Linked DNA regions of Homo sapiens. The protein of the gene in region 2 binds, or shares a complex with, the protein of the main gene of each other region. Each region holds a gene or a part of one and is shown on either strand. Other genes may lie near its edges.

Region 1 (7,695 bases), on a different chromosome or scaffold from region 2:
TGGTAACCTCAGTTTGAAGTAGATCTGTACCAAAATGAAACAGCCTGTCAGAGTCCTTTGGATTATCAGTACCGTCAGGAGATCCTGAAGCTGGAGAATTCGGGTGGCAAGAAAAACCGACGAATCTTTACCTACACTGACTCTGATAGATACACCAATTTGGAGGAGGTATTGTTCTTTCTAGGGTCTCATAGCTTCCATCTTTGCTTCCTCTAGCTTTTTTGCCTCACTGAGTTCTGTGTGTTATGTCAGAGCCTAGTAAGGGGAGACAAGTAGCCTGTCTAGGAACTGCTGTGAGCTGCTGCTGCTGGCAGCCAGCCTGGAATAGAATGGGCACAGTCTACAGGTGGTGAGGCTGCTGCTCCCTTCTCTGCCTGCTAGAGGGCCTGGGGGAGCTGCCAGTATCTCTGATTATATGCTTGCAGAGTGCATACTGGGAGAAGTAACCACTGGGCTTGACTTCCTCCATGCATCATGAAAAAAGACAGGTAGTGGAGTCTGGAACAATATAGATAAAATTCATCAGGGGATTCAGCCCAAACTCTGAGTATATGGGTTTGAAGAGGAATTCAGTATAGCTATGGAAAATGGCTTATGTCCTCAATTTGCCTATGACAAAAATACCCTTGTGACCTTGTTTTACATTTTCTTCAGTCACTGCATTTCAGTTGCTTCTGTCTTCTCAGTAAGATTTTAAGCTCCTCGAGGGTAGAGCCTATTTTTTTTATTTTTGTCTATGACTCTGTAGGTCTCTGCAAGGAACAGGTATTCAATAAATGTTTTTGAAAGATTGACGTGCTTTCATTATTAGAGCTGTGGATTGATAACATTAGCTGGGCATGGTGGCATGTACCTGTAGTCCCGGCTACGTGGGAAGCTGAGGCGGGAGGATCACTTGAGCCAAGGAGTTCAAGGTTGCAGTGAGCTATGATAGCACCACTGCACTGCAGCCTGGGTGAGACCCTGTCTCTTAAAAAAATATATAAATTAAATAAAATTTGGGTTGTCTGTTTTGGAAAAGCAAATGAAAATGCAGTTAGTGCTCAGTTACCATGTGAGGATTTCCCACAAAATGCTTGTATCCCATTTGGCATTTTCTAACCACCTTGTTAACTTCAACATCTACCAAGCACACTAACCCAACTTTTTGTTGGTTTGTGCTCAGAGAATGCAGACTGATTTTAATATTAACATAAATAACTCCTTTTTAAAATCCAAAGGCAAACCATGATGTGGTAGAAATCTTCTTTGGGTTGTTTGGCTACTGCTCCCTCCGTTAGCATGTATAATTGTGAGGTGGCGGAACCTGTGGGGTTCAGGTCCTGGATGAGGTTTCAGGAGGAAGACTTCCCTTCAGGTACTTGGCTCCATGTGGCCCTGACCAGATGGCGTACACAGGGCTGCTTGCTTTTCCCAGCACTGTCAGAGAATGACCACTGCAGCCAGCGAGGTGCCTTCATTCTTGGTCGAGCGAATGGCAAATGTCAGGCGTCGCCGGCAGGACAGGCGAGGGATGTGAGTGCGGGCATGGGATGGGGGACAAGCTTTTACTTTTTATTTCCTAAAGTTGGGTAGTTTTGCATTTTTATCAGTGGTTATATATAGTATTCAAGTATTACTTTGTAATTAATTTAAAAAATAAATATAAAAATATAAAATATCTTCCTCACTCTTCATGTGGACATTTTTCCAAAGTGCCTCAGAGAGAGGGAAGGGATGTCATTTCTGTTTGTCAAATATTTTGGCTCTTAAAAAACAAAACAAAACAGTATGTCCACTAGCTCAAACTTCCCATTCTGAAGTGGCTCTCCACTGGGGTGCTCCATTGGGGTGTGCCAGGGAAGTGACCTTTCTGTGGTGTCTCCCAGGGAGGGCGGCATCCTCAAGTCACGCATCGTCACCTGGGAGCCCTCAGAAGAGTTTGTCAGGAACAACCACGTCATTAACACCCCTCTTCAGACAATGCACATCATGGCAGACCTGGGGCCCTATAAAAAGTGAGTGGCGCTTCTCACTGCCAGCTTAGAGCCTCATCCTTTTCTCCTCTCACCAGCTCTCCCCTTCCTGTTATTATCATCCTAGGTTATAGGGGAGGGAGGGACTTTTTCTTCCTTCTCTTCTTAGTTATGAGTGAAGCTTCTCACTGCCAACTCAGATCCTCATCTTCTTCTCCTCTCACCAGCTATCCCCTTCCTGTTATCATCCTGGGTTATAGGAGAGGAAGGGACTTTTTCTTCCTTTTTTTTCTTAGTTGTACTTGGAAGAAAGTTTTACCATGACAGCTCTCCCTATAGCCTCTGTTCTCTCCCCTGCAGTGGGCTCAGTATCTCTTCTTGTTTCCCTGAAGGACCATTGACCTCAACCTTGGTGTTTTCCTGATTTCTAGGCTTGGCTATAAGAAGTATGAACATGTCCTGTGTACTCTGAAGGTGGATAGCAATGGTGTGATCACAGTAAAGCCTGACTTCACGGGCCTCAAAGGACCCTACAGGTGAGGAGAGGAAGAAAGGGGTAGTGGAGACTGGCATTCCTTCCCTTGGTTGCACTTTTTGTCCCTAGTCAACTAGACTGTCAGAAAGTCCTTCATCTGTTCTAACTTTTACATTCCCAGGCAATGGTTCGTATTCTGTTCCAAGTCATAGGGCCTTAGAAAACCAGGGACTCCTTTCTCAGAAAATGTGCAACTGCACCAATTTGAAAGGGATCACTTCAGTGGTACAGTTAAATGACAGTGATTCTCTGTGCTGCTGAATGTAGGACCTGACCAGAACAGAGTGGGGTGAACTCAGCCAGGCTTTTCCTGTGGGCTGACTGTTCCTCATCTCTGTATCTTGGAAATGACAGAAATGTAAATTAGAAATTATCTGGCCCAACCTGTCCATTTTTCAGGTGAGAGAACTGGGTGGCAGGAATGTTGTGCCTTACAGTTTGACTGTAACTTCAAGCCAGAAATGGGCCCAGAACCTATACTTTCTGAGTCTAGTCTGGTGCCCTCTCTGCTTTACCCTTTTGTTTCTCTCTCCTGGTCGTCAATACAGCCACTTTTATCATCATATACTTTAGTGAGGTGTATGGCCCCTGATCGCTCATCCCTGGGCTGGGAGCTATCCCAGGGCCCATCTCTCATTATTAGAGTTGCTCCTTTCTGTGGTTTTGACCTTACAGGATTGAGACGGAGGGGGAGAAGCAGGAGCTGTGGAAATATACGATCGACAATGTTTCCCCCCACGCACAGCCGGAGGAGGAGGAGCGGGAACGGCGAGTGTTCAAGGATGTAAGCGCAAGTTCATTCCAAGTATCCAAGGGATGAGCCTCAGTGCCTGGAGCTGAGACCATTTCTGAACTTGATGTCAGCAGTTGCTCGGGAAAAGCCTTGCCCTTCATGGCCCCTTCTGACTTAGGCAGCATTGCTGACATATCAGACAGAAGTTTTTGATCATATTATAATAATAACAATAACCATTTATTTGAGCATTTACCATGTTCTGTGCTAGGTACTTTACATACCTTATTTCCTTTAGTCTTTACAACAACCCTTTGAGGTGAACACTTATTACCACCTTATAAGTGGGGAAACCGAGATTGAGGAGCTAAGTAGTCTGCCCAAGGTGGCATAGCTTGTAAGGGCGAGAGTCAGGATTCTGCCCCAGACCAGCTGACTCCAGGGCCTCTGCTTCACGGTAAAATGGCGGTGAGTCAGGTGCTTACGCCTCCAGCTCTTGCTGACCCTTCCCACTATTGCTTTTCTTCTTCCCATTCAGAACTGAACTTTGGTCTAGCTTGGGTTGCATCTTGAGTTTTGGTTTGGTTTGTTTCCTCAGCTTTATGGCCGGCACAAGGAGTATCTCAGCAGCCTCGTAGGCACCGACTTTGAGATGGTGAGTAGCTTGGCTTCCTGCAGCACTGTGAGCTGTGTTTAGCCGGAGCATTCTGACTGTGGATGAGTTACACTACCTCTCTTAAAGGCCCAAAGGTATACTCTACAGTGTGAAAAGGAAGTCAAAGAATAGCACATATAGTCCTTGTTATGTGTTTTGCAACATTGCATGTTGATAGAGAACTGTTAATGCTAAGAAAAAGGTCTGAAAGGCTATGCACATGCTGTGGGTGGCTTTCTCTGGGGAGGGTGGGATTAGATGTGGTAGAAGGGTAGTGGGTGGTGAGAGGGATATATTAGGGATTTTTGCTTTTTATTCCCTAAACTTAGGTAGCTTTGAATTTTTATCAGTTGTAATGTATTTAGGTATTACTTTATAATTAATTTAAAAAATAAATATAAGGATGAAAAATGTCTTCTTCACCTTTCATGTGGATATTTTTTCAAAATACCCCATAGAGAGGCAGGGGTGCCATTTCTGTTTGTCACATATTTTGGCTCTTAAAAAATATAGGCCTGATGCGGTGGCGCATGACTATAATCCCAGCACTTTGTGAGGCCAAGGTGGGAGGATCACTTGAAGCCAGGAGTTTGAGAGCAGCCTGGGCAACATAGTGAGACCACATCCCTACAAAAAAAAAAAAAAAAATTAGCAAGGCATGGTGATACATACCTGTAGTCCCAGCTACTCATGATGCTGAGGCAGCAGGATTGCTTGAGCCTAGAAGTTTGAGTTTGCATTGAGCTATGATCACACCACTGCATTCCAGCCTGGACAACAGATCAAGACCCTGTCTGAAAAAAAAAGAAAGTGGTTTAGTTCAGCTATTCTGTTGTGCTGTTCTTTGTCTTTTCTCATTCTAAGAGTTCTATCTCTAGACCTGGAAACAAGGATAGAATTACTTCCTGGTCTCCCTCTCTTTCTCTGAAAAATTAACCTTCACTATTTCCATATTGCATAAGCAACAGATATTCAGTATTTAAAAGTTAGATAAGACATGCACAAATAATTAAAAAAGAAAACTCCCTGGTTTCTTGACCTCAGCCATCTAAAGGGAAGAGGGCGTTCTGGCTTCCCATTGCACACCACAGGACAGTTGCTGTTGCTTGAATAATTTCCCATAGTGCATTGTCCTCACTGCCATTTAAATTATGTACTTTCCCCCTACATTGTGAATCTTAGGAATGAAGGAAACAGATCTGTGGAGAAGTGTCAGGGTGGGGAGAAAGTGCAGTAGTGACACCCAGGGCCTGACCCCTAGTGGCAGGTCGTCTGCAGATTTGTAGATGGGGCTGGAGGAGAAGTGCCAATTCCCTCCAGGCCTGCTGATCCTTTCCCACTTCTCTTCACCTTAGACTGTCCCAGGTGCCCTCCGGCTCTTTGTAAATGGAGAGGTCGGTAAGTGTCTTGCTAGCATAGATCTCTTGATGCTTAGGCACGTGCCTAGATGGAGCTGTGAATAGTCTCCTCCACTCTGGTAGAGGCCTTGTCTGCTGTACTTGGGAAACTCAGTGGTGAGTCTTTCCTGGAAACGCAGAGGGTTCCTGGCCCTCAAAAGACTTGCTCTCAGGGTGTGTAGGCCCCTCAGGATTGGGTTGGGTGCTAAGGGTGGTAGGAGAAAAAGCTAAAATAGCTTCCTGTTTTCTCTCGTAGTTTCAGCCCAAGGCTATGAGTATGACAATCTCTACGTCCACTTCTTTGTAGAATTGCCAACTGCTCGTAAGTAATATTCTTAAGTCTCTCCTTTTATACCCATTCAGACAGATCTAGAGGCATTTGGTCAGGCTTCCTTTCCCACTCCTCTGCTGAAACTGTTACTGTTCTTTTCAAGGTCATAGATCACATCCACTTTACCAAACCCAGTGGAGACTTCCCTGCTTTCACCTCGCTTGACCTTCCTGAAGCATTTTCCAGAGCCCACTGTGCTGCATGACACACTTCTCTGGCTTCTGGCTCCACACTTCTCTCTCCTATCTCGCTGGTGGCCCCTCATCCTTCTTGGGTGATGCCTTCCCTTCTGTTGATCTTAAACCGTGAGAGTACCCACAGCTAAGCCAAGGCCTTCTGTTACTCTCTGTCTGCAGTCTTCCTGGGCAACGTCATCCATCCTATGGCTTAAATACCATCAATACGTCTCAGACTCCCAGGTTTCTGCCTCTAGCCTTAACCTTTTCCCTGGACTCCAGACTCATATCCAGTTACCTCTTTTGTCATTTCTGTCTAACATGACCAAAAAGAACTCTTGATTCCTCCTCTTCCCTCAAACCTCTCCTCCCTGGTCTTCCCCATCCTAACAGAATGGCAGTGTCATCTACTGAGTTGTTGATGCCAAAAACCTAGGGAACATCCTTGATCCCTCACTTTCCCTAGCTCCCTATAGCCAGCCAATCTGTCAACAGTTCCTGTCCGTTCTGTCTTCAAAAGCTGTTGTGAACCTATTTGTTCTCTCCAGCACCCTACACCAAGCCACCACCATCTCTTGTCTAGGCCAGTGCATTCAACTTCTGATGTATCCCCCTGCTTCCTGCCTTGCTCCCATTTGCCGTTGATTTGCCACAGACACCAAAGCCAAGTTGAGCTTTAAAAAATGTAAACAAGTTATGTCCCTTTTGAGCTGAAAACCCCAACAGCTTCCCCTCCCACTTAGAGTAAAATGTAAACTTGATACCCTGAATGAGCTGGCCCCTGCCTATCTCTTCCATACAACCTTCCAGTCATTCTTCCCAGCCAGGTTCATTCCCACCTTGTAGCCTTTTAAGGGCCGTTTCCTTTGTCTGAAACCCTTTCTGCCATATCTTAGCATGGCTGGTTCTTTCTGAGTTTAGGTCTCAGCCTGTGTCGCCTCTGAGAGGCCTTCTCTTACCACCCAGTCTAAATGAGCCTCCCAATCACTCAGTCCCTTCCCCGTTTTGTTTTTAGTATAGCACTCATCACTACCCAATAGTCTCTTGTTGGTTTGGTTTTTGTCTGTCTCCCTGCTTCCCCCAGAATGTCAGCTCCATGAGAGATGGGGATCTTTTCTATCTAGTTACCAAGATACCCCTAAGATATACTAGCACATAGCAGGCACTCAGTAAATGGTAAATGAATGATTGATTGTGTGAATAAATGAATAAAGAAACTGTCCGCCCCGTCTGGGAAGTGAGGAGCGCCTCTGCCCGGCCGCCCCATCTGGGAGGTGTACCCAACAGCTCCGAAGAGACAGCGACCATTGAGAATGGGCCATGATGACGATGGCGGTTTTGTCAAAAAGAAAAGGGGGAAATGTGGGGAAAAGAAAGAGAGATCAGATTGTTACTGTGTCTGTGTAGAAAGAAGTAGACATAGGAGACTCCATTTTGTTCTGTACTAAGAAAAATTCTTCTGCCTTGGGATGCTGTTAATCTATAACCTTACCCCCAACCCCGTGCTCTCTGAAACATGTGCTGTGTCAACTCAAGGTTAAATGGATTAAGGGCGGTGCAAGATGTGCTTTGTTAAACAGGTGCTTGAAGGCAGCATGCTCCTTAAGAGTCATCACCACTCCCTAATCTCAAGTACCCAGGGACACAAACACTGTGGAAGGCCGCAGGGACCTCTGCCTAGGAGAACCAGAGACCTTTGTTCACGTGTTTATCTGCTGACCTTCTCTCCACTATTATCCTATGACCCTGCCACATCCCCCTCTCCGAGAAACACCCAAGAATGATCAATAAATACAAAAAAAAAAAAGAAAAGAAAAAAGAAACTGTCTTTTTCTGAATGACTTGCTTTCCTCCCAGGCGAGCTTACTATATTTGGTCTTTGGCTTTCAGACTGGTCAAGCCCAGCATTCCAG
Region 2 (8,272 bases):
GAACGTGCTCCGTGGACTGCAGGGGAAGCTCCAGCTTAAAATGTAACATGTCCGTCTTCCCATCCTGGTTCCTGTCTTCTTCTCTAGTCTAGGAAACCCAAACAGGCCCAGCAGCCCTGGTCACTAATGAGTCTGGGAGGAATCCACATCACTTCTGTAAATACACAATGACCCACTGTCTTGCTGTACACAACAGGCATTATCTCCTCCACTAAAAGAGAAAAGCAGATAGATGTAAGTGCATTAATACTGGGGAGAGACACAAAGTGCATGGTCCCTGAACTTCATATCTGGGCCTTTCAAATGTTCACTGGCCAAAATAAATGGGCAATAACAAAAAACATCTGGATAGTATTTGTGCCTTTCAGTTGTCTCATGTGATCTTGCTTATTTTGCACTGATATTTTTTTCTTTTTTACAAATATGCCTGAATTTGTATGGAAATTTTAAGTAGCATGTCAGAATAGTCTTCTATGTCTCTAGAAGTCAACTTGTTAAAATAGAAAAACACCTAATCCTAATCATTATGCATTCCTCCAACAAACTCAAACTCAACAGAAAATCACCAAGCTCTATTTTTTTTTGTTTTTTTTTGAGCCGGGGTCTAACTCTATCGCCCAGGCTGGAGTGCAGTGACGCAATCACGGCTCACTACAACCTCCGCCTCCCAGGGTCAAGGAATTGTCCTGCCTCAGCCTCCTGAGGAGCTGGGATTACAAGTGCCCACCACCATGCCCAGCTAATTTTTTTATTTTTAGTAGAGACTGGGTCTCACCATGTTGGCCAGGCTGATCTTGAACTCCTGACCTCGGGTGATCCGCCCACCTCAGGCTCCCAAAGTGCTAGGATTATAGGCGTGAGCCACCGCACCCGGCCTTACCAAACTCTGTTTATAGATTCTGAAACCACGAGTGTCTTTGCTTCAGATTCTTGATGTTGGATCTTATCTCATCATTCGTGTGAGGACCTGAAAGCCTTGTGCATCTTTTAGTAGCAATCAATGAAATGAAAAAGGAAGCTATGTCAAATCAGCAAAGTATTAAAACCATATCTATTTGATAAATTACGGGCATGAAAGGAAAGAAGACAGAGGTCTGTAGAGGAAAAAAGACAAAATACAGCTTATGAAGCATATGTAGGCAGTGAAAAAAAACTGGTATCCACTCCTACCATCCACAGTCTTGCCAAACAGTGATGCTAAAATGATGATCAGGAAAGCACGGTTACTGAAAAGTGATCACTGCTGACATGGTCCCTCTGCACAACTCTGGATCTTTTTGCTACAACTGATCCTTTCCCACTGTGGATTCCCAGAACAATTCTACTATCGTGTAGCAGCATTCCCATCTGGATCCACCATCTATGGATTCATTTTGATTCCCACCATTACTATTACGTAAGGAAGAGATTTTTTGTGTGTGTGCTTTTTCAGGCTAATAATAAGGTCATTTGAAATGAAGAAATCTCAATTTTCAGAAACTTTCAATTATTTCTTTCTTTCTAGACAATAATGTTCCTTCTCTTAGGTCTTGTTTTAGAGAAACCTCCCTCCCTTTTCTCTTGGATACTTCCTCTCTGCCCTGTTTCATCAGCTTCGGGGAGGGATATCTGCTACCAGGGCTGATGATCAAGTTACTGAGGCAATGATGGACTAGTCATTATAGGTAGGATGAAAAGAGCCTGCCTTGCGGATCATGAGGTCAGAAGATCGAGACCATCCTGGCCAACATGGTGAAACCCCGTCTCTACTAAAAATACAAAAATTAGCTGGGAGTGGTGGCACGTGCCTGTAATCCCAGCTACTCAGGAGGCTGAGGCAGGAGAATCGCTTGAACCAGGGAGTTGGAGGTTGCAGTGAGCCAAGATCTTGCCACTGCACTCCAGCCTGGTGACAGAGCGAGACTCCATCTCAAAAAAATAAAATAAAAAATAAATAAAAGAGCCTGCCTTGTCTCCTGTGGATTTTCTTCAATTGGGATCTGGGTAGAAAATCTTATGTAACTCTCTGTGATGGATCCACACCTTCTAGATCTTTAGGGTTGGACAGGAAGAAAAGAGCACATTTCTCAACTTGCAACAGAGGATAGTGGCCAGGAGACAACTGCCAGAAGAATCCAGACTCCAACACACTGTGGGAGGGGGAAAAGCTCATTTCCTTTGATCTTTACAATAAATGTAAAGCCCCAGGCAGGCAGAACAGGTATTTTCCCATTACACAGATGACAAAATCAAGGATGAGTGAGATTAGGGCATTTATCAGAGGTACAGCAAGTAATGGTGAAGACAGGATTTGAGATCAGGTGACTTCAAATCTGGTCCTCTTTTTAGGACCAAAATGTCTAAAATTATTTTAAAAATTCCAAATGAAGACAGCAGGTTGGACAAATCTTCCTGAAAAACAGCAGCACCAGGCATCTACGTCTGTATACTTGCCTGTGCACATCCTTCCATTCCAAGTTCGCGGGGGACAGATTTGGCACAACACCATCAATAGTGTCTACTTGTTAAATTCACTCATTGATCTGTTACGTACTTTTTGGAAACACGCCAGGCACTATTTCAAATAATGAGACTATAATGGTAAACAAAATAGACAAAGTCCCCATCCTAATGGGGCATACATTCCCGATGGACAATGTAGAAAACAGTGACAAGTGCCGCTGACAGAAATGAAGCAGGCTAAAATTAGAGAATAATGAAGGTAAAATTTAACAGAAATTGGCCAGGCGTGGTGGCTTATGCCTATAATCCCAGCACTTTGGGAGGCCCAGGTGGGTGGATTGCTTGGGCTCAGGAGTTCGAGAGCAGCCTGGGCAACATGGCGATACCCTGCCTCTATTAAAAATACAAAAATTAGCTAGGCATGGTGGCGTGCACCTGTAATCCCAGCTACTAGGGAGGCTGAGGCAGGAGAATCGCTTGAACCCAGAAGGTGGAGGTTGCAGTGAGCCGAGATCGTGCCTCTGCACTCCAGCCTGGTGACAGAGCAAGACTCTATCTCAAACAAACAACAAAAAAACCCAAAAAGAATTTAACAGAAATTTTTAAATATTCAGGATGACCCAACTTGTTGGAGTCCTGAAGGAAGTGAAGTGATGGGGTGCAGGAACATCTCAGAGAGGAGGGATCCAGGCTAATCAGGTACATGTGCTCTGGGTACCCGTGGGATCAATGCATCTGGCAGAGTGGGTGAGAAGGAGAGCAGGGTGGAGAGAGGGGGGAGAGAAGTTTCGATGGAAAGGATGTGTCTCCCACAAATGACCTGTCACCAAGCTGGACTCTCACCCTCCTGGGGCTGGCGAAGTTTGGCTGTGCTCCTCTGTTATCACTTGGACCACTGAATAAATCAATTATTTAATTCCATTTAGTTGAAAGTAAGTTTAACATATGTGCAATAGCTAACAAAGGCAGGCATTCAAAGGCTACTACTTCTTTAACACAAATTCTAGGTCGCTATCTAACCTCCAACTGGTACTTAGCCAAGAGAATTCACATATCACACCACCACCTTATATCTACAACGTATATACAGGCTTTGGAACAATTTTTATATCCATTCATTGTCCCACGTGATTCCTCTGCATATCCCAGGAGAGATGTGGGTACTCTCATGCCCTGTATATGGATAGATAAATTGAGGGTGAGGTTATGAAACCCAGTGACAGAATTGGGACTAGGACCTTGTGGGACAAGGATCTTGGTTTGCTGACTCCTGATTCAGGGCTCTTCTATAATAGCTCATAAGAACTCTAACTGAAAAGATTTCTCATGGTTAAAGGAGGATAACCCTTTAGAGATACACATGAAATCCACACGCATGTACTGAGCAGAGTCAGAGGGAATTTTTTTGTTTTTTTTTTGAGACGAAGTCTTACTCTGTTGCCCAGGCTGGAGTGCAGTGGCACAATCGCCACTCACCGCAACCTCCACCTCCCAGGTTCGAGTGATTCTCCTGCCTCAGCTTCCTGACTAGCTGGGATTACAGGTGTGCGCCACTACGCCCAGCTGATTTTTGCATTTTTAGTAGAGATGGGGTTTCACCGTGTTGGCCAGGCTATTCTCAAACTCCTGACCTTGGGTGATCTGCCCGCCTCAGCCTCCCAAAGTGCTGGGATTACAGGCATGAGCCACCGCACCTGGCCAGAGGGAATTTAACATAGGGAATAAATAGTCCCATAGGTATTAGAGGACTGAAGACGTAAAAAGGGGATATCCCAGCAACACAGAGATAGTAGCTGCAGGGAACATTTCCCACACCTAGGACTAGAGAAGAAGGGGAAGCGGGTGGGACTGATAGAACTTAGAGGTTCAGGGAAGAGGCCTCGAAGAGCTGAGCCTCAGACTTCAAGAAGGGACCGCGGCCCAGATGGGGCCAGGACCTCTGAGCTTGGAGGAAGCATGCACTAGAGGGAACCTTGAAGCCGGTAGGAGAGGCGTCCTGCTCCTTCCTGTTTGCTGGTTGTCCCTGTTTGTGGCATCCACAGTGGTTCTTCACCCTGGCAGTGGTGACTGGTTTCATTTCTTTTTTTCTGCACTCCCAGAACAAGGCTCATCATGCCTCCTACTGGCAGAACCTAACAGGAAGCTGCAGGGGAAGAAGGTGGTTTCCAGCATCTCAGCAGGAACCTGGAAGCTGAGCGTAGGAGGGTGGGTTTGGAGCTGAGACAATACCTCATAACCAGCACACCACCTGACTGCAGGAATTGCCAGAAATTCAAGTGCCATTGTTTCCAGAGTATCCTGATGTGTGACTTTTTTCCCCGTCAGGAATTCCCAGCATCTGACGGTTTGTTGGAATTTTGTTTGGTTTCTGTTTTGTTTGCGTACATTTCATTCATTTAAGTCGTATTCTTTTTTTTTTTTTTTTGAGATGCAGTCTGGCTCTGTTGCCCAGGTTGGAGTATGGGTGGTGCAATCTCAGCTCACTGCAATCTCCGCCTCCCGGGTTCAAGCAATTCTCGTGCCTCAGCCTCCCAAACAGCTGGGATTACAGGAACCTGCCATCACACCCGGCTAATTTTTGTGTTTTTAGTAGAGACGGGGTTTCACCATGTTGGCCAGGCTGGTCTAGAACTCCCTACCTCAGGTGATCCATCCGCCTCGGCCTCCCAAAGTGCTGGGATTACAGGCGTGAGCCACTGCGCCCGGCCCATATTCTTTTATTAAAGGTTAATTTCCTAGTTTATACCAGTGTCTATTTCACCATATACTTGTCATCACCGGGTGCTCCTTTCTTTTTAAGCTAAAAATACTCTTTGGCACCAGTTGTGGGTCTCTAGCAAAGCAGAAACTGCCACTTCGTGGTTCCTTTCCACCTTTCTACCTGTATTTCTTTTTTTTTCTATTTCTTTTTTTCTTGATACAGGGTCAAAAAAGGCTAGAGTGCAGTGGCACGATCACAGCTCATTGCAGCCTTGACCTCTCAGGCTCAAGTGATCCTCCCACCTCAGCCTCCTGAGTAGCTGGGACTATAGGCATTCACCACTACCCCTGGCTAATTTTTAAATTTTTTATAGTAGGGCCTCACTATGTTGCCTAGGCGGTCTGGAACTCCTGAGCTCAAGGGGCTAGCCTCCCAAAGTGCTGAGATTATAGGCATGAGCCACAGTGCTCAGCCTTGTATTTCAATCTAAGATACCATTACTTATAAAATGAACCATTATTTTATATACCACTGATAAAAGAAAAACATTTCCAATTAAACTATGACACTTTTCTAATCACTTACTTTTTAAAAAGTTACTAAAAGAGCTTTTAGATTTAGACATATTTACACAGATATGTTTATTTACTTAGAAAAATATAAGCAAAATAGGTCGGGGCAGTGGCTCACGCCTGTAATCCCAGCACTTTGGGAAGCCGAGGTGGGTGGATCACCTGAGGTCAGGAGTTCGAGACCAGCCTGACCAACATGATGAAATCCCGTCTCTACTAAAAATACAAAAATCAGCCGGCCGTGGTGGTGCCTGCCTGTAATCCCAGCTACTCATGAGGCTGAGGCAGGAGAATCGCTTGAACCCAGGAGGCGGAGGTTGCAGTGAGAAGAGATTGCGCCACTGCACTCCAGCCTGGGCAACAGAGTGAGACTTCATCTCAAAAAAAAAAAAGAAAAGAAAAGAAAGAAAAATATAGGCAAAATAAATTGATTCAGGGATTCCTAAAACTTCTTTACATCCTCATCCTTTTGAGTAACACTTTAACTCAGTCAACAACCCATACTTTTCTATGCAACTTTGTCCTTTGTGCCATCAAACATGTTGGTGATACAGCATTAAAAGAAAAACAAAAACAAAAAACAAAAATTCAGCTGGGCATGGTGGCTCATGCCTATAGTCCCAGCACTTTGGGAGGCCGAGGCAGGCAGATCACTTGAGCTCAGGAGTTCGAGACCAGCCTGGCCAACATGGTAAAACCTCATCTATACTAAAAATACAAAAATGAGCCAGGCGTAGTGGCAGGAGCCTGTAATCCAGCTCCTTCGGAGGCTGAGGCAGGAGAATCTCTTGAACCTGGGGGGCGGAGGCTGCAGTGAGCCAAGATTGCGCCACTGAACTCCAGTCTGGGTGACAGAGTGAGACCCTGTCTCAAAACAAACAAACAAACAAACAAACAATTCATAAAAGAAACTAAAAGCCATTGGTCTGGGCCCTTAAGCAGACTTTGAAATTATGGAGAGCTTTCCTGTTTTTAAAAGCCTCTCAAACTTTCCCTTACTTGCTCTCCATTCAATTCAGGGGTTAAAAAAATGTTCTACTACTGTCTCTGGGGTTTCCTCTGAGGTTGCTGATGCCCCTTCTTTTTAATTGCATTTTTATTTTTCTAACACCTACCTCTTACACAGAAATGATGCCCCTTCTGCATGTTTTGATGCCGGCACAGGTGTAAGCAATGAGAACTATGCCATACCTGCCTCCTTGCCAACAGTTGATAACCACAGACAGGAAGACACTGATTTCAGGGATGAGAAGAAACAGGTGTCTTAGAAACACGGTACTCTCCACTCATCCTCTGGAATCCTTCTATAACCTTCAGTCCCTGTATTCTCTGGGTCCACACATGCCTTCAAGAGCTATGTCAGCCTCCTTGAGGCTTGAGGGGGAAAAAGTCACTCTGCTTTTCTCTTCTCTCATTAAAAACAACAAAAACTAGACTTCCAAAGCATTAAACATGTAGGGAGCTTAGAGACGCTGTCCAGGATGAGCTGACCAAAGCAGAAGCAAGGCTGTTTGTGACTTCAGCATTTCCCCCAATTAGCCACTGCAAAGCCACCTCCCAGCACTTGGTCCAACCTTAATCAACAACCACTGTTTCCTTTGCCTTCTGGACAGTTTCCTGGATAGACTGACGTCAGTCTGGCTCTATGTTCAAAGTTAGAAAATAAAAGTAGTTTGTTGCAATAAGGGCTAAGATTTTAAGATATAGCATAAGAAATACTGAGTTCCAGTCCAGACTCTGTTCACTTCAAAGCAGTGGCTCACACCTGTAATCACACCTGTAATCCCAGCTCTTTGAAAGGCTGAGGTGAGTGTATTACCAGAGTTGAGGAGTTCTAGACCAGCCTGGCCAACATGGTGAAACCCTGTTTCCACTAAAAAACACAAAAAAGTTAGCCCGGAGTGGTGGTGCATGCCTGCAGTCCCAGCTACTTGGAAGGCTGAGGCGAGAGGATTGCTTGAACCCAGAAGGCAGAGGTTGCAGTGAGCTGAGATTGTGCCACTGCATTCCAGCCTGGCTGACAGAGTGAAACTCTGTTGCAAAAAAAAAAAAAAAAAAGAAAAGAAGAAAAGCTAGGGCAAATTGTACCACTTCTCTATTTCTTTTTAATTTTTTATTTTTTTGAAATGTGGGGTCTTGCTATGTTGCCCACACTGGCCTTGAACTCCTGGGCTCAAGCAATCCTCCTGCCTCAGCCTTCCAAAGTGCTAGGATTACAGGTGTGAGCTATCATTTCTGGCGGCAAATATTTTTATCTCATTTACCTGATCATTTAGAAATGTATCTCCAGGTCTTGAGATAACATTTGCATTGAAAATTCTCAGTTTCTCAGTTTTAGGCATTCTCTATTGAGTTCCCACAAGGAAAGATGATTTAGCTTCTTCTCTCCCCCAATTCCTCCCACCATCCCCTATCACATACCCAATACCTTTCTCATTACCCCCAATAGAGTTAAAATCTCTTTTTAGTAAACATTCAGTGTTCATATAATTAAGACTATGTCAATCCTATTCACAACTCTGATAACATTTTGGTTCTCAGTTTTCCTTACTTTTCA
Region 3 (8,272 bases), on a different chromosome or scaffold from region 2:
AGGTGATCTTCCCACCTCAGACTCCCGGGTAGCTGGAACTACAGGTGCTGCATGCCACCACGCCCGGCTAATTTTTTGTAGGGACGGGGTTTCACCATGTTGCCCAGGCTGGTCTTGAACTCCTGGCCTCAAGTGATTGCCCACCTAGGCCTCCCATAGTGTTAGGATTACAGGCTTGAGCCACTGCACTCTGCCAGTCACCTGTCTTCACCTTTTTAAAGGACCTCTCTTTAGACTTGTGACAGTAATAACTCATTTGTTAACTGTTCACTGTGTGGCAGGCACTGTGCTAAGCATTTCACCTATGATGTATCTCATTTAATCCTTACAACAACCCCATGATGAGGGTACTGTTATCCCCATTTTTCAGGTGGATAAATTATTTGCCTAATTTTAGGACACGCAACTTGTAGATATCGGAGCAGGAGGCTGACTGTGAGTGGAGAACTGGATGGAAAATTGCAGGTGGCTTCAGGCAGTGTTGGTGGAGAAGAGTGATAACCCTTCATCTTGAATCTGGGCTCTGTTCATTAGTACCCTGCTCTACAAGCCAGGTGTGCAGATGCGATAGGAGGCAAGGGCAGCTGAGTGCTGCTTAGACCTGACAGGGGCTCAACAGCTACTTGGTGGATGATTAAGTACACTCGCATCCTGGGTAGAAACCTTTTTCCTAAGTGGAGTTATTAAACACTATTGCTTCGTCCTTAGTAGTCTTACAGCTGCCTATAAGGGCTTTAAGTTTTGAAAACAAAGCAAGATAGTAATTTTAAACATACAGGGAACCTAAAGCACTTTTAATTTTTTACATTAGCGTGCATAAGTTGTGTCATTTTACTAGGCACATAGAAGAGTTCTCAACTAGAGAGAAGCACTGTAAACTTTAGGGGGAAAGCTTTTGTGTCTTAGACTAAGAAATCATGGCATATTAACAAAACCTTCCCCTTCACCTCACACATTTTTTTTGCAGAGTGCATTATACCTTTTACGGGGTACTATTTTTTTTTTTTTAATTGCCCAGGCTGGAATGCAGTGGCGCAGTCTCAGCTCACTGCAACCTCCACCTCCCAGGTTCAAGCGATTCTCCTGCCTCAGCCTCCCAAGTAGCTGGGATTACAGCCGCGCGCCACCATGCCTGGCTAATTTTTTTGGTATTTTTAGTAGAGATGGGGTTTTACCACGTTGGCCAGGCTGGTCTCAAACTCCTAACCTCAGGGGATCCACTCTTCTCAGCCTTCCAGAGTGCTAGGATACAGGCGTGAGCTATGGGATACATTTTTCTTTTCTCTTTTTCTTTCTTTTTTTTTTTTTGAGATGGAATCTTGCCCTGTCACCCAGGCTGGAGTGCAGTGGCACGATATCGGCTCACTGCAAACTCTGCCTCCTGGGTTCAGGCTATTCTTCTGCCTCAGCCTCCTGAGTAGCTGGGACTACGGGTGTGTGCCACCATGCCCGACTAATTTTTGTATTTTCAGTAGAGACGGGGTTTTACCATGTCGGCCAGGCTGGTCTGGACCTCCTGACCTCGTGATCCACCTGCCTCAGCCTCCCAAAGTGCTGGGATTACAGGCTTGAGCCACTGCATCCGGCCGCTGTGGGGTACATTTTTCTAAAGCTCCTTTTTATCGTGAAATAATTCATACGTACAAATAAGAATGTTGGGTGGACACTAGCAGCATTTGCTTCAGATTCCTTTTTTGTTAATTTTGTTTTTTGGCTTGAGATCTTTTTTTTTTTTTTTTTGAGATGGAGTCTCACTCTGTCATCCAGGCTGGAGTGCAGTGGTGTGATCTCAGTTTACTGCAACCTCTGCCTTCTGGGTTGAAACGATTCTCCTGCCTCAGCCTCCCTGAGTAGCTGGGATTACAGGCGCCCACCACCATACCTGGCTAATTTTTGAATTTTTTTTTTGAGATGGAGTCTCGCTCTGTCGCCCAGGCTGGAATGCAGTGACGCGATCTCGGCTCACTGCAAACCCCGCCTCCTGGGTTCACGCCATTCTCCCGCCTCAGCCTCCCCAGTAGCTGGGACTACAGGTGCCCGCCACCACACCCAGCTAGTTTTTATATTGTTAGTAGAGACGGGGTTTCACCGTGTTAGCCAGGATGGTCTCAATCTCCTGACCTTGTGATCCGCCTGCCTTGGCCTCCCAAAGTGCTGGGATTACAGGCATGAACCACCGCGCCCAGCCTAATTTTTGTATTTTTAATAGAGACAGGGTTTAACCATGTTGGCCAGGGCAGTCTCAAACTCCTGACCTCAAGTGATCTGCCCGCCTCCCAAAGTGCAGGAATTACAGATGTGAGCCACCGTGCCTGGTTTGAAATCTTCTTTTGAAAAAGAAAACGTTACAGATAAGATTGAAGGTTGATCTTACTTCTTCCCTTCCAGCAATAATTGCAACTATAAATTCATTCTCTATTTTTTAAAAGGGTTTTCTTGTCCTTATTTGACAGAATAAGATAGAGAATTAAAAATCCAGATAATCATCTTTGTTGCAAAGCGGCAAAGAAAAATCATCCTTATTAATGATTAAAAGTTGACCAGGAGTGGTGGCTCACACCTGTAATCCCAGCACTTTGGGTGGCTAAGGCTGGCAGATCACTTGAGGTCAGGAGTTTGAGACCAGCCTGGCCAACATGGTGAAACCCCGTCCCTAATAAAAATACAAAAAAAAAAAAAAAGTTGGGCGTGGTAGTGCATGCCTTTAATCCCAGCTACTCAGGAGGCTGAGGCAGGAGAATAGCTTGAACCCAGGAGGTGGAGGTTGCAGTGAGCCAAGATTGCACCATTGCACTCCAGCCTGGGCAACAAGAGCCGAAACTCCTTTAAAAAATAAATAAATAAATAAAATAATTAAAAGTTGTGAGGTGGGGGAGATTCCTACCCCGCCCTCATACCTTATTGTCTAAATCACCAAAGACATTCTGAGCACCTGAGCCGGTATGATTCTTGGCCAAGGGTCTGTGAATATGAGTTCAGCTTTAAAGCAGCAGGTTATACGTGAAGAGGGGGCAAGATTGAAAAGTCTCTTTCCTGAAGGTTTAAGTGGGCCCTTCCTCTGAATCGTAATCTCTAGAGGAGGGGCTTAAGGACTTTGGAGTTTTAAACTGGTGGTTCTTATGGTCAGGCAAATGGTTTAGGGGTGCTTGTTCTTAAACTTGTCTAATTATAAGCATCACCTGGAAAGTTTCTGAAAACTGCAAATGCCTGGGTTTCATATTCAGCTTACGAAATCAGCATCTCTGTAGGCAAAGCACTAACAGAACTTTCCAAGCGAGTCAGATCATTAGCCACTTTGGGGAAACCTCTGATTGTGGGATGCTCAAACTGACTCATTTCCACTTCACAAATTTCCCCCAAAGTGCAATAGGAAAAATAAAATGGATCTTTTTTATGAAATTGACTTATGGTACACTGTGGTGGCAGGGGGCAGTCACCACCTGCTGATGGTGATGTTCTGGATCCTACCCCTCTTTTTTCTGCAGTTGCTGTTCTCTGTGTCTGTGACTTATCCCCAGCACAGTGTGACATCAACTGCTGCTGTGATCCCGACTGCAGCTCCGTGGATTTCAGTGTCTTTTCTGCCTGCTCAGTTCCAGTTGTCACGTAAGTTTACGTATGACACATGCAATTTTGAAAAAATTTGACCAGGATAATACAATTTGGAGAAAGGGAAAACTTTCCCAGGCTTAAAAACCCAAACCTGATTTCCAGTGTTTTACGTCGTTCTGAAGCCATACCGTCCAAACAAATATGTAAAAAAGTAGCTATCCCTGGCAGGGCGCAGTGGCTCACGCCTGTAATCCCAGCACTTTGGGAGGCTGAGGTGGGTGGATCACGAGGTCAGGAGATTGGGACCATTCTGGCTAACACGGTGAAACCCCGTCTCTACTAAAAATCCAAAAAAATTAGCCGGGCATGTTGGCGGGCACCTGTGGTCCCAGCTACTCGGGAGGCTGAGGCAGGAGAATGGCGTGAACCCGGGAGGCAGAGCTTGCAGTGAGTGGAGATTGCGCTACTGCACTCTAGCCTGGGTGACAGAGCGAGACTCAGTCTCAAAAAAAAAAAAAGTAGCTATCCCTTATTTGCATTCAGCCAGGTGACTGTGCAGGCAAAAGAGAAGAGAGAATATACATTAAAATAATGTAATGAAACCTCTGTGTTTGAAGATTGAATTACATTTCAATTTGAGTTGTAGACAGTGGTCACATTTTTTGTATCAGTGAATTAGTATAGCCTAGGGTGAAAAGTGCATTTTAATTTCACAGCTTTTGTTGTGGACATAGTATTTGTAACAAAAAATTAGATAAGAAATCTGTACTTTTCTGATATGTAAATCTACCAGGAATTCTCACAGTTCGCATTGTATAGAACAATGAAAAATGACATTTCCAGCTGATTATAAGGTAAATAAATAATCTGTTCTGAATGATCTCTTATAATTGAGGTTTCAAGGCTTCTTTTTTTTTTTTTTTTTTATGAGATGGAGTCTCGCTCTGTTGCCCAGGCTGGAGTGCAGTGGTGTGATAGTGGCTCACTGCAACCACCGCCTCCTGGCTTCAAGCAATTCTCCTGTCTCAGCCTCCTGAGTAGCTGGGACTACAGGTGCACGCCACGATGCCTGGCGTATTTTTAGTAGAGGTGGGGTTTCACCATATTGGTCAGGCTGCTCTCGAACTCCTGACCTCAGGTGATCCGCCCTCCTTGGCCTCCCAAAGTGCCGGGATTTCAGGTGTAAGCCAACGCGCCCAGCTTCAAGGCTTTTTGAAAAACTAGGAGCACTTAGAAGAGGCTCATTAATTCAGGATGGGACCAACTTAGTATTCAGAGATAGCTAATTTAAATTTAGCCTTATAGCAAGTTTTAGCAATTGATACTTGATAGGTGAACCCTTTTAAGAAGTACAATGGGTTTTTCCTGTGAGAAACTATTTTATTGACCAATGGGATTTTGAGCCTATTTCTAGTATTGTAAAAATGCTCAGAGAACAGGGCAATGTAGTCAGATTAATTTTCTGGCTACCTGGCCTGTAGCATGTTTCAGTATTTGTTGAAAGTCATTCTGTTTTCCTCCCTTTAGTAAATACAGGAGCCTGAAAGTGACATTTTTGCTCCAACTTGGGGCTATTTTTTTTTTTTTTGAGACAGAGTCTTGCTCTGTTGCCCAGGCTGGAGTGCAGTGCCTCCATCTCGGCTCACTGCAACCTCTGCCTGCTGGCTTCAAGCAATTTTCCTGCCTCAGCCTCCCAACGAGCTGGGACTACAGGCGTGTGCCACCATGCCCAGCTAATTTTTTGTATTTTTAGTAGAGACAGGGTTTCACCGTGTTAGCCAGGCTGGTCTTGAACTTCTGACCTCGTGATCCGCCCACCTCGGCCTCCCAAAGTGCTGGGATTACAGGCGTGAGCCACTGCGCCTAACCTGGAAGATCTCTTTTCTCCTTAACCATTAGTACCTAGTAGAGCTCCTGCCACATAGTGGGCCCTCGTTAAGAATGAGTTGAATTGGCTGGGCATGGTGTCTCACGCCTGTAATCCCAGCACTTTGGGAGGCTGAGGCATGTAGATCACTTGAGGTCAGGAGTTTGAGACCAGCCTGGCCAAGATAGTGAAACCCCGTGTCTACTAAAAATACAAAAATCAGCTGGGCGTGGTGGTGGGTGCCTGTAATCCCAGCTACTCAGGGGGCTGAGGTGGGAGAATCGCTTGAACCTGGGAGGCAGAGGTTGCAGGAGCCAAGATCGCACCATTGCACTCTAGCCCGGGCAACAAGAGCGAAACTCCATAAAAAAAAATAATAATAATAATAATGAGTTGAATGGATGAATGAATTTCTCCCTTCCACCTCTAACTGATTTCCTAGTGTCCCTTGTTGACTTCCTCTACCATTAGTCTTTTAGGCCGACACCAGGCCAAAAACCTGGAGGCTCCCCTGACCCTTGCCTCTTCCTTTCCTTTTCCTGTCTCAGCAGTCTTTCCTTTCTCCCAACCTTTCTTGAGTACCTCCTGAATGCCAGCACCAGGGACATAAAGATGAGTTAGGCACTCTCCTGCCTTCAAAGAGCTTACCGTCGAGTAAGGGAGACAGAGGAGTGGATGGCAGTTTCTACATCAAGCACGATGAGAAGGCAGAGGAATGGCATCTAACTCAGCCCCACTAAGGAATGCTCCCCAGAAAACAGGAGCTGAGCTGGGTCCTGAAGGACACGTGGAAGATGGTCAGCATGGACTGAGGGGAAGGGCATTCCAGGCAGAGGGAACTGCGTGGACAGAGATGGGGGGATGTGGGATGGCCTGCTTAACTGCAGGTAACTCAGTGTGGCCAGAAGAGGGGTGGGGTGAGAGGAGTGTAGGAAAGAGATCAGGGGTCAGGTCCCCAGGGGCCTTGTGTATATGCTAAGGGGTTTGGACTCTGTCCTGAAGTCCACAGGGCCTGGGTTGTAAGAGGATCAGATTCCCATCTTATGTAATTCTGCAGCATCATATGCAGTGGATCACAAGGCCAAGCCTGGTGGCAGAGAACCAAGTAAAAAGCTATTGCAGATGCGGATTAACGGTTTCCCTCCCCATCCTCCCCAAAAGCTGTGACAGTGGGGCTAGGGAGAAGTATCTAGATCTGATGATGATACTGAAATACTGCACAGGATTGGGGAGGTGGCTGACTGGAGGGGAGTAAGGAATCCCATTCTGTGGAGCCTTCCATCACTCTAGCCCTCGTGGTCGTCCATCCCTGCTCCTGCTTTATGAGCTCACACCTCATCCTGTCAAGCACTCACTAAAAGACCTTCAGAAGTTCTCATTATCTATAGGCTTCTTAGCCTGGATTCAGATTCATTCCCACCTTCTTTCAGAGCCTATCACCTGCTACCAGCCATCTCAAATCCACTCCAGCCCAACCTTGGTACTCAGAGTTTCCCAAAGACCATGAGTCGTTACCCAGCCTTGGCCATTGCCGTTCTTGCACTTGGATTTGCTTCCCATTCCTACTGTCTGTCTGATTTCTACTTATCCTTTAAGGCCCAGTAAAAACGGAATGATAATATCCAGTCTTGGCAAGGGTACAGGGAAATAGGCACTCTTACTACAGTGTTGGTGAGAATGTATATTGTGCCCTTCTAGAGGGCAATCTGGGAGTGTGTCTCAGAAGCTTTAAATAATGTTACCTGCCTTTTGGTTTAGCAGTTCCAGTTCAGGAAACATATCCTAAGGAAACAACTGGAGACAGTCATAAAGATGTATGTATAAGGTTGTCATTATAGCATTACATATAATTGGGGAAAATTAGAAACCTAAACCTAAACCAACGATCATAGCTCGCTGTAACCTTGCTCCTGGGCTCAAGCAGTCCTCCTACCTCAGCCTCCCAAGTAGTTAGAACTATAAGCATCTGCCAGCATGCCGGGCTAATTTTTTCTTTGTTTTCTGTAGAGATCGGGGTCTGTGTTGCCCAGGCTGGTCTTGAACTCCTGGCCTCAAGTGATCCTCCCCAGCCTCCCAAAATGCTGGGATTACAGGCATGAGCCACGGTGCTTGGGCTGTACCATATCCATATCTATATTGGTTAAACAAATTGGGGTATTAATAGGCTGGTATACGATGATGAAGCCACTTATAATATTGTAAGTGCATATTAGGCATTATATATTAAGTGAGAAAAGCCTTAAAACAGTATGTAGAATATGGTCCCATTTTTATTATGACTATCTCTATACTATTATCTGTCTGTCCAGCTATCTGTCTATTTTTTTTTTTTTTTAGAGACAAAATCTCACTTTGTGGCCCAGGCTGGTCTTGAAATCCTGGCTTCAAGTGATCCTCCTGCCATGGCCTCCCAAAGTACTGGCATTGTAGGCGTGAGCCACTGTGCCCAGCCTCTATGTTTTTTTGAGATAGGTCTTGCTCTGTCACCCAGGCTGGAGTGCAGTGACACGATCATAGCTCACTGTAACCTTGCTCCTGGGCTCAAGCAGTCCTCCTACCTCAGCCTCCCAAGTAGTTAGTACTACAGGCATCTGCCAGCATGCCGGACTAATTTTTTCTTTGTTTTTTGTAGAGATAGGGGTCTGTGTTGCCCAGGCTGGTCTTGAACTCCTGGCCTCAAGTGATCCTCCTCAGCCTCCCAAAATGCTGGGATTACAGGCATGAGCCATGGTGCTTGGCCTGTATCTGTATCTATAGCAAATTGATTGGGATTTGTCAAATCTGGGATTGGTTGAAGACTTAACTCATAACTTCTTTTTTTTTTTTTTTTGGGAGAGAGAGTCTCACTCTGTC
Region 4 (8,084 bases), on a different chromosome or scaffold from region 2:
ACAATTCAAAATAAAATTAATGACAATTACATCCTAGGGAATACAAAAAGACATACCTCCAGTTCATTTTCCAGTTTCATTACTTTAGTTTTTAATTGATTTTCTATTTTTTTAAAAAAAAAGAAAAACGTTTTAATTGATTAGTTACCACAAAACAAACTTTTAAATAAATTTCAATAACAAAATTAATTCTTTTAAAAGAGTCCATCATGATTATAAGGTAACAAAAAGTATTATATGGCAGATCCATAAAATAGGAGTCTAGAAATATTTATTATTAAATGTTATATATTAAAAATAAACTGAATATATATATTTTATAGAATATAATTTAATTTTCTACAGTTTAATGAACAAATGGAATTCATTATTTAATACCATAATAAACTTTTTCCAAGGTGCTTACCAAATTTTGCTTGTTCTTCTCCAGCTTTTTCTACTTCTTCCAAAGCCAGCTCCACTTCTTGAGCTTTCATCTAAACATTAAAAAAAGGTTATTTCAATATGCCTTTATACTGGAATGTAAGCACTGAAAATAAAAATTCTGTTTTATTTGTTATGATCCTTAGTGCCAGCAATGGCTGGCACATGGAGACGTTCAGTAAATATTTGCTGAATAAATAGTTTTTGGTTTTTGTTTTTGTTTTTTTTGCTTTTGAGATAGGGCCTCACTTTGTCACCCAGGCTGGAGTGCAGTGGCACAATCTCAGCTCACTGCAACCTCCTGCCTCCTGGGCTCAAGCAATCTTCCCATCTCAGTCTCCTGAGTAGCTGGGACTACAGGTGCATGCCATCATGCTTGGCGTGCCATCATGCTTGGTGTGCCATCATGCTCGGCAAATTTTTTCGTACAGGCAAGGACTCACTATATTATCCAGGCTAGTCTTGAACTCCCAGGCTCAAGCAATCCTCCTGCCTTGGCCTCCCAAAGTGCTGGGATTACAGACGTGAGCCACCATGCCAGGCAATTTTCTTACTTAAGACTACAATTTCTAGATTTTTAATAGCATGAAACATTTTTGATTCTCCTTTTTACCTCAAGTCCTCAAGTCTTATATCCAGTAATGCAACATCTCCCTTTGTAATGTCTTTCCACTACTTTTTTTCTGTTCCAATTGCTATTATTCTAATCCATAATTTCAGGTTTAAACTCCGCTATAATGTGATGTCTACAAAGCTCCAATTTCCTTCAGTTTGTCCTACATAATATACTCAGTTTTGCCTTCTTAAGGTGTATTTTTGTACCTATCAATTGTGTTTCGAAAACCTTTACTGCCTTCTCAATTGCTGATAGCATAAAATACACCTTTAAGGCCCTCAACAACCTATCTCAAAGTACTTACCCAAGATTTGTTTTCTCTACAGTCTGCTACAAACTTGCTGCACCTTGTTTCCTCAAATATAAAGAATAAACATATTTCCTGTTCTCAGTATTTATTTATGGTAACCAACAGCTCTAGAATTCCCTTACTATCTTACCACTGCATTGCCTTCCACTTATCTAACACTACTCCTCAGTATTGATCCTTTGTGAAGTCTTCTGACATCTCTTAAATCATTTCCCCTCTTAACAAATCCCTATAGCAGTCATTGTCTGCATTTGTCATTTGGACCTCAAGATATATTTCCTTATGTTACTTTTCAACATACTCATTCTATTTCCCCTACACACCCTTTTAGAAACTTTAAGTAGAAACTAGCAATGTTTTATACACTAAAATACTTAATTCACATTTAAATATATTGCATTTTTTAGTGGTGATGTAGATATTACCAGGTATTTTCACAAAGATTACCTTATATAAGAACAGATTTTTATAGTTCCACTAATAGCCAAACCTATAGTTAAAACCTACTACATACAAACCTTCATTAGTGACTGAGTAATTCTGAAAAGGTGTATCACATTTTCTTGCTTTTCACTTTTTAGCTCATTTACTTCCACCTAAGTAAACAGAAAAGCAACTGTTTTATATTTTATAACCTTCAAGCAAAATATAAGAACACTTCCAGATTGTGACAATTATAGTTGTCCCTGAAAAAAATAAATTCATATTTTATTAATAAATTAATCATAAGTTAATGTATATATCTATTATTATTGACCAATTAAGCACCTTGGATAAGGAAATCAATAAATTATCTGCCAGTTCTTCTTGACGGGGCAGGTCATCTGGGTCAACTTTCATTATTTCTTTCCAGTTTATATTAGGTGGCATCTTGAATTCTTTCACTGTGCTCCACCTCTGTAACAAAACAGGTGTATATTAGCATTTTCAAGGTACACAGTATTATTGGTTTTCTAGCACCTTACATTTTTTGCAGATTATTTCATTATAACTTTCTGATGTTAGCAAAACAGACAATTGGGCCACAAAATAGACAAGTGGGCAAAATAGCCTTGATCAAAAATAGCAGTCGGCACAAACTGTCAGAGTGTCCCGGCTAAATAAAATGTGACGGCTTCCTTGCTAACACTAATCTAAGTTAATACTTAAGATTTCTGGATCCCTTCCTCCACACCCCTACCCACAATGCGCGCGAACACCCTAATCCTGGCAAGCGCGAGGGTCTGTGGAAGGCCGACAATCATCCCTGATTTGGAGAAACAGAATTGGGGCTGAAAAAAAACGCAGAAATTAACATTTGGAATGAGTGAAGTTGTGCGGCGGAAACTGGAACCGAAGCAAGGCAGTATTAGGGACCCGAGGCTGGAAGGGCGGGGTAGCTATGCTGTGGCACACGGGCCCTCAGGCTAAAGAACCTGAGCGTGGAGTGACTCGCTAATCCTGCTTACAAGGATCCACCCACCTAGACCAAGCCTGGCAACCAGCGGAGGCCTCTCACTACCGCAACCACCAAGCTGGACCCGGCCGCGGGCCCTGACAGATCCCTATCGCGGTTCCACGCGGACTCTGGGTCCAGCCAAATGGTCCCGAGCAAGCCAAAGCGGCAGCGGCTGCTAGGCGACACCATCCCCAACTCCGCCAAGGCCAGAATAAGATCCCGGATGCCAGGAGAGCCTACAGTTCACGACCGTGGGTGATGCTTTACGTTTAGATTCTCCGCCGGAGTCCCAGAGCTCGGTGTTCAGGATGATGAGAAGGCGTGGAACGAGGACTTCAAATCCCAGAGTGCAGTTCTGCCTGAGGCTTCTGCATGCTGGGAACTGAAGTCCCTGAGAAGAGGAGGTAAGGCGCTCCCGGCATGCAACGCGTAAGACTGCGACGGTACCGGGGCGGCGGGGAAGGACCGAGAGGCGGGAGGAGCAGCGGCTCAGGCGCCTGCAAACTGGTGGCCTGAACGAGGTAGACCATGACTGTGGTTTCAGTGGCGTCACTCGCTGGGCTGCTCTTCCTGAGGTTTTCCTAAGCCATCCCCTGGCGGAACCGCCCCCAGGTGAGGTCGAGCTGTCGGTCAGCATATTGGGAGGAATTGAGGGGAGCAGTCCTGGGTTAGAGAAGCTTCTGCTATTGGGGCCGTAGGGCCTGGTCCCATTCTGAAAAAGTGGGAACACCCTGCCTTCTCTTCAGGCGTTTGCAAGCGGCGTCCAGGGTAGTGCCTTCTGTAAGAAGGAAAAAACAAAAAGTTTTAGCCTTGTTTAGTATCAGAATCTGTCTTGATAGTTAGAGTGAGAGCCGCGCAGCCGTGATCCTCGTTTGGGGGCGAGCGAAGAATTGACAAGAGGTCTCGGCATCCCGACCCCGCCCGCCTTACCTGTAGCACCATTCCTTTCGCGGATCGTGGGGCTTGATGGTTGTGGAGCTAGTATAAAGTCAAGGCTCTAGAGAGGAGAGGTTAGTACTTGTCCGGACCACTGCCGGGGGTGGAGAGAGAAGGGATCCAAGGACTCACCTGTACTATTGTTGCCACTTGCTTGGTTACCTAGGGTGCCCTTCCATGAAAGCGCCTTCTCTGGTGTTTACCACTCTTACTCGTGCAAGTTTTGCTCATCCTGCTCGTCTGCTCACAATCATGCTGGAGTATGATACATCTCTACCTAACTTTCCTAAGAAGCTGTAGACTTAAATCTAAATGACATTTCCAACTATCTGGACCAGTGCTTTGTCTTTTTTTTTTTTTAAACGCTGCTTTAAAAAAAAAATTACTGTACTTGACAGTAAATTTTCCTTTCGAAAATAAGTAATGAGTTTCTTTTTAAACCCCCAATTTGGGTAAAATAAGTAGCTCAGTACAAAATAAAAAGATACTGATTTTGTGAGATGAATTTTAAAGACATTAGTTAGATTTATAGGAATGACAATTTTACTACTTTTCTGAAAGATTATATGCCAAATACTATTCATTATCTTGTTTATTCTTCCTTACAATCCAGTGAAATAGGTGCTTACATTGTCCTCATTTTCCATCTGAGTTAAGAAACTGAGGCTTGGAGAAGCTAAGTAACTTAAATAGTGTGATTGAACACAGATCTCTCTGGCTGGAGGACATATTCTTAACTTCTATACACCTCCTCAGACATTCTGGGAAACCAATATTTGTGAAGTGCTTGTTCCTCAATCTTGCTATTTTTATTAAATGTTATATTTTAATTTTGTAAGTGTTTACTCAATAATTTGAATTAAACATTCTTCATGTTCAGTGTTCTTAATTCATAATTTAACATGGGATGGTGTTTCTGGAAAGGTGTTCTGATCTGGACCCCAGGAGAGGGCTCCTGGATCTCGCCAAGAAAGAATTGGAGGTGCATACACCCCCATTGGAGGTGGTAGACTAAGGATTGTTATAGTTATTTCTTGATTATATGCTAAACAAGGGGTGGGTTATTCATGAGTTTTCTGGGAAGAGGGTAGGCCATTCCTAGATCTGAGTGTTCCTCCCCTTTTTAGACTATATAGAGTAACTTCTTCACATTGCCATGGCATCTGTAAACTGTCATAGCACTGGTGGGAGTGTCTTTTAGGATGCTAATGCATTATAATTAGTGTATAATGAGCAGTGAGAACGAGCAGACGTCCCACCTTTCTCGCCATCTTGGATTTGGTGGGATTTGGCTGGCTTCTTTACTGCATGCTGTTTTATCAGCAAAGTCTTTATGATCAGTATCTTGTGCCCACCTCCTATCTCATCCTGTGACTTAGAATGACTGACAGACATCCTGAGAATGCAGCCCAGTAGGTCTCACCCTTATTTTACCCAGCCCCTATTCAAGATGGAGTTGTTGTGATTCAAATACCTCTGACAATGGTAGGAATGAAATTTAATAGTTACTGAGCACATGTTATGTCATACACTATGCTGACTACTGCGTGTTTGTTTTCATAATAGAAGTCTGTTTTCTCTAACACCTTTTCTTCTGTTTTTTTTTTCATTCGTTATAACTTATTTTTATGTATTCACTTACAAGTTTCGTTTGTCTGTATTACTCTTTTCTACCCTTCTGCCACCACCCTCTTGCTCACATTCATAAACTCAAGGTGCCTGGTCTCTAATGGTAAATTTTATTCTAATTTTTCAGAAGTGAGAACAAGTTCATAGAAGTTAAGTAATAATTGATGAAGCTAAGATTGTAACCTAGATCTCAGTGACAATTGTAACTAAAAGCAAAATCTTACCTAAATTTTATTCTTTAACTCATTCTAACAGTATTTTTTATCCTGTTTCCTGTGCTAGGCACTGGGGATACAGCAGTGAACAAGTCAGCTCTGGCTTGAACAAGTCAACTAAGTTTTTATGCATTGTCGTCTGTACCTAAGTGTGAGTCAGGAAATTTAACTCAGGTTCTAGTTCAATAACTCACTGTATATTTTTGAGGAAAATTGGCAAAACTATTATTTTTCGTCAGATTTTCTGCACCTGTCAGTTTTCATCAAGAAATGGGACTTATGTGACAATGTTGTAAGTGGCCTTGTTATAAGAACACTTGTCTGGACCTGCCTTCTTTCTGCCCTAGGCTTTTGTGAACAGTTTTATCTGACCAAAATCACTTCACAAGAAGGCCTCACCTTTTATTATTGCTTACCTTTGTTCTCTGTAGCAATGAATTTATATTCCTTGGATGTTACTTCTAGTTCCTTTTTGCTGACTTACCAAGAAAAGTCATAGTAGCTTACTTCTCCGATCTCTAAAACAAAGCATGGCCATTTTGTATCCATTGTGTGTCCTAAACATTTTGTTTTGCCTTATCTTCATGGCAAATTAAGCCATGGTTAATGGCTTAATTCACACTGACTCCCTACTGATCTTTCCAGTTTCCTCATGTTGAAGGAAGACAAGTATCTGCTTGCTGCACACTCATTCTTGTCCATGAAATTAAGGCAAAACAATTTGCCTTAATACAATTTACAGTTTTATTGAAGGGATTGTATTTAGTTTTGTATATCTATAATGTAGCTCATGAGAAGTCTTTGTGAACCAAAAAGTGTCTAAGACGGGTCTCAATCAATTTAGAAGTTTATTTTGCCAAGGTTAGGGACATGCCGAAAAGAAATAAACACTGAATCACAGAAACAGTCTGTAGTCTCTTCCTTTCTCTAAGATGATTTTGAGGGCTTCAGTATTTAAAGGGGAAAAATCCATTGGAAGAGAAAAAGGGTAGATATGGTAATCTATGTGTTGCAAGAGAAAAAGAGCAGAGAGGGAAATAGATATTATGTATTCACGTGGGGTGGTAAATCAGCACTTTACGTGAGATAAGATGAATGTCCTAAAGTAGCTACCTGTGGAGATATTTAACATTTGATGTGTAGCTGTCTGCTAAGAACAAAAGGAGAGCAGTTTCTTGCATGACTCAGCTTTCACCCTAATTTTTTCTTATAGACATAATGAATTGAGATCCCAAGTTTTATTTTCCTTTCACATTTCCAATTGCACTTGGATTTTGTGCACATATATAGTAACACCCCATTTTTGTAAGCAAACAGAAATCAGTCATCCCATCCACTTAAACTGCATCTGTAAGTCTGCTTCTGTGCCTAGGAAAAATTAGAAGTTCTCACAACTAACAAGAATAGTGTGTTACATGTTTGCAATAATGGCCCCCAGTGAGTCAGGTCCCCGTCTGCCTATGCCTTTGTGTAAATCTGTCCCTTCCCTGCAACCTCTACTTTGCAGGTGGCTCTTGGAAGTAACCTAAGATGACTCCACAACTGAGCTCGTAACATGCTCTCTCTCCCTTTCTCTCATACTATGCTCCCTTGGGGAATCTTAAAAATTCTGTTATCTTGGCCCTTTTATAACTTCTTCCCCATTGATTCAGGATGTACCTTGCTTGAATAATAATTTTTAAAATACGCACTAAATAGAGCCTTATAAAGAGCTTGTGCATTGAACCTTGCCCTCCTGTTGTCCTGAGATCATCATTTAAGAAGCCTAAGATAACCTATTAGAGGATGTGTTAATAAGTAGCAGAGACTAGTTTTCAAAGCTGAGAAATCTACCCTTTAAAAGCCATCCAGCCCTAATCAAGCCACTGGATAACTATAAGCACATGAGTGACCCCAGGCACAACTAACAGAAGAACCATATACATACCTATATATTTGTGTGTGTGTGTGTGTGTGTATATATATATATACATATATATGTATATATATGTAAAATAAAGATATATTGAAGAATTGAATTATTTTGAATGTATTCATTTTTAAGTACTTCAGATGCCTAACTTAACAAAGAAAACTTTCTCAGTACTTAAATAACTGATTAAATTTAGGAAATAAAACTTGAAACTATAGCAAATCCCAAGTTCTTATAAAAATTCCAATACTATTTGTGTATTTAGCTAATTATTATACTTTTCAACTATAGTTGTGAATCCAGAAACTACATAGTCAGTAGTTTAATATGTTTATTATGTTTAATATGTTTATTATACGTATTATTGTATATTTTAAAATTATAGTTATGCAGCTAATATATCAAAGTCTCCAGGATGTCAGATTCTCTTAAAGGTTGCAGTTACTCTAAAAAATCAGATGCATAATTTAATATTGTTTATTATGCATATTATTGTATATTTTTATATATTTTTAAATTATTTAATTTATTTTAAATTATTTAATTTAACAATAATTTAACAGCTAATGTATCAAGTCTCCAGGATGTTAGATTCTCTTAAACAT

The links.
Region 1: TMEM231 (region 2) and MKS1 share a complex: the UniProt entries of both Homo sapiens proteins name them as parts of the tectonic-like complex.
Region 3: TMEM231 (region 2) and TCTN1 share a complex: the UniProt entries of both Homo sapiens proteins name them as parts of the tectonic-like complex.
Region 4: TMEM231 (region 2) and CEP290 share a complex: the UniProt entries of both Homo sapiens proteins name them as parts of the tectonic-like complex.

Annotation. Positions count from the first base shown.
Region 1 is NC_000017.11:58,208,561-58,216,255, reverse strand, and holds part of MKS1 (tectonic-like complex member MKS1), read left to right. Parts: intron 1-12; coding exon 13-168; intron 169-1,357; exon of another isoform or gene 1,358-1,417; coding exon 1,418-1,515; intron 1,516-1,868; coding exon 1,869-1,997; intron 1,998-2,386; coding exon 2,387-2,491; intron 2,492-3,165; coding exon 3,166-3,274; intron 3,275-3,821; coding exon 3,822-3,878; intron 3,879-5,233; coding exon 5,234-5,276; intron 5,277-5,531; coding exon 5,532-5,597; intron 5,598-7,672; coding exon 7,673-7,695. UniProt on the Homo sapiens protein: Component of the tectonic-like complex, a complex localized at the transition zone of primary cilia and acting as a barrier that prevents diffusion of transmembrane proteins between the cilia and plasma membranes.
Region 2 is NC_000016.10:75,545,867-75,554,138, forward strand, and holds part of TMEM231 (transmembrane protein 231), read right to left. Parts: intron 212-8,272; exon of another isoform or gene 89-211; coding exon 1-88. UniProt on the Homo sapiens protein: Transmembrane component of the tectonic-like complex, a complex localized at the transition zone of primary cilia and acting as a barrier that prevents diffusion of transmembrane proteins between the cilia and plasma membranes.
Region 3 is NC_000012.12:110,616,351-110,624,622, forward strand, and holds part of TCTN1 (tectonic-1 isoform 1 precursor), read left to right. Parts: coding exon of another isoform or gene 1-2; intron 3-397; exon of another isoform or gene 398-554; intron 555-3,485; coding exon 3,486-3,606; intron 3,607-8,272. UniProt on the Homo sapiens protein: Component of the tectonic-like complex, a complex localized at the transition zone of primary cilia and acting as a barrier that prevents diffusion of transmembrane proteins between the cilia and plasma membranes.
Region 4 is NC_000012.12:88,139,089-88,147,172, forward strand, and holds the start of CEP290 (centrosomal protein of 290 kDa), read right to left. Parts: upstream 3,001-8,084; 5' UTR 2,812-3,000; intron 2,787-2,811; exon of another isoform or gene 2,645-2,786; intron 2,247-2,644; 5' UTR 2,220-2,246; coding exon 2,118-2,219; intron 1,946-2,117; coding exon 1,868-1,945; intron 477-1,867; coding exon 407-476; intron 104-406; coding exon 57-103; intron 1-56. UniProt on the Homo sapiens protein: Involved in early and late steps in cilia formation. Its association with CCP110 is required for inhibition of primary cilia formation by CCP110.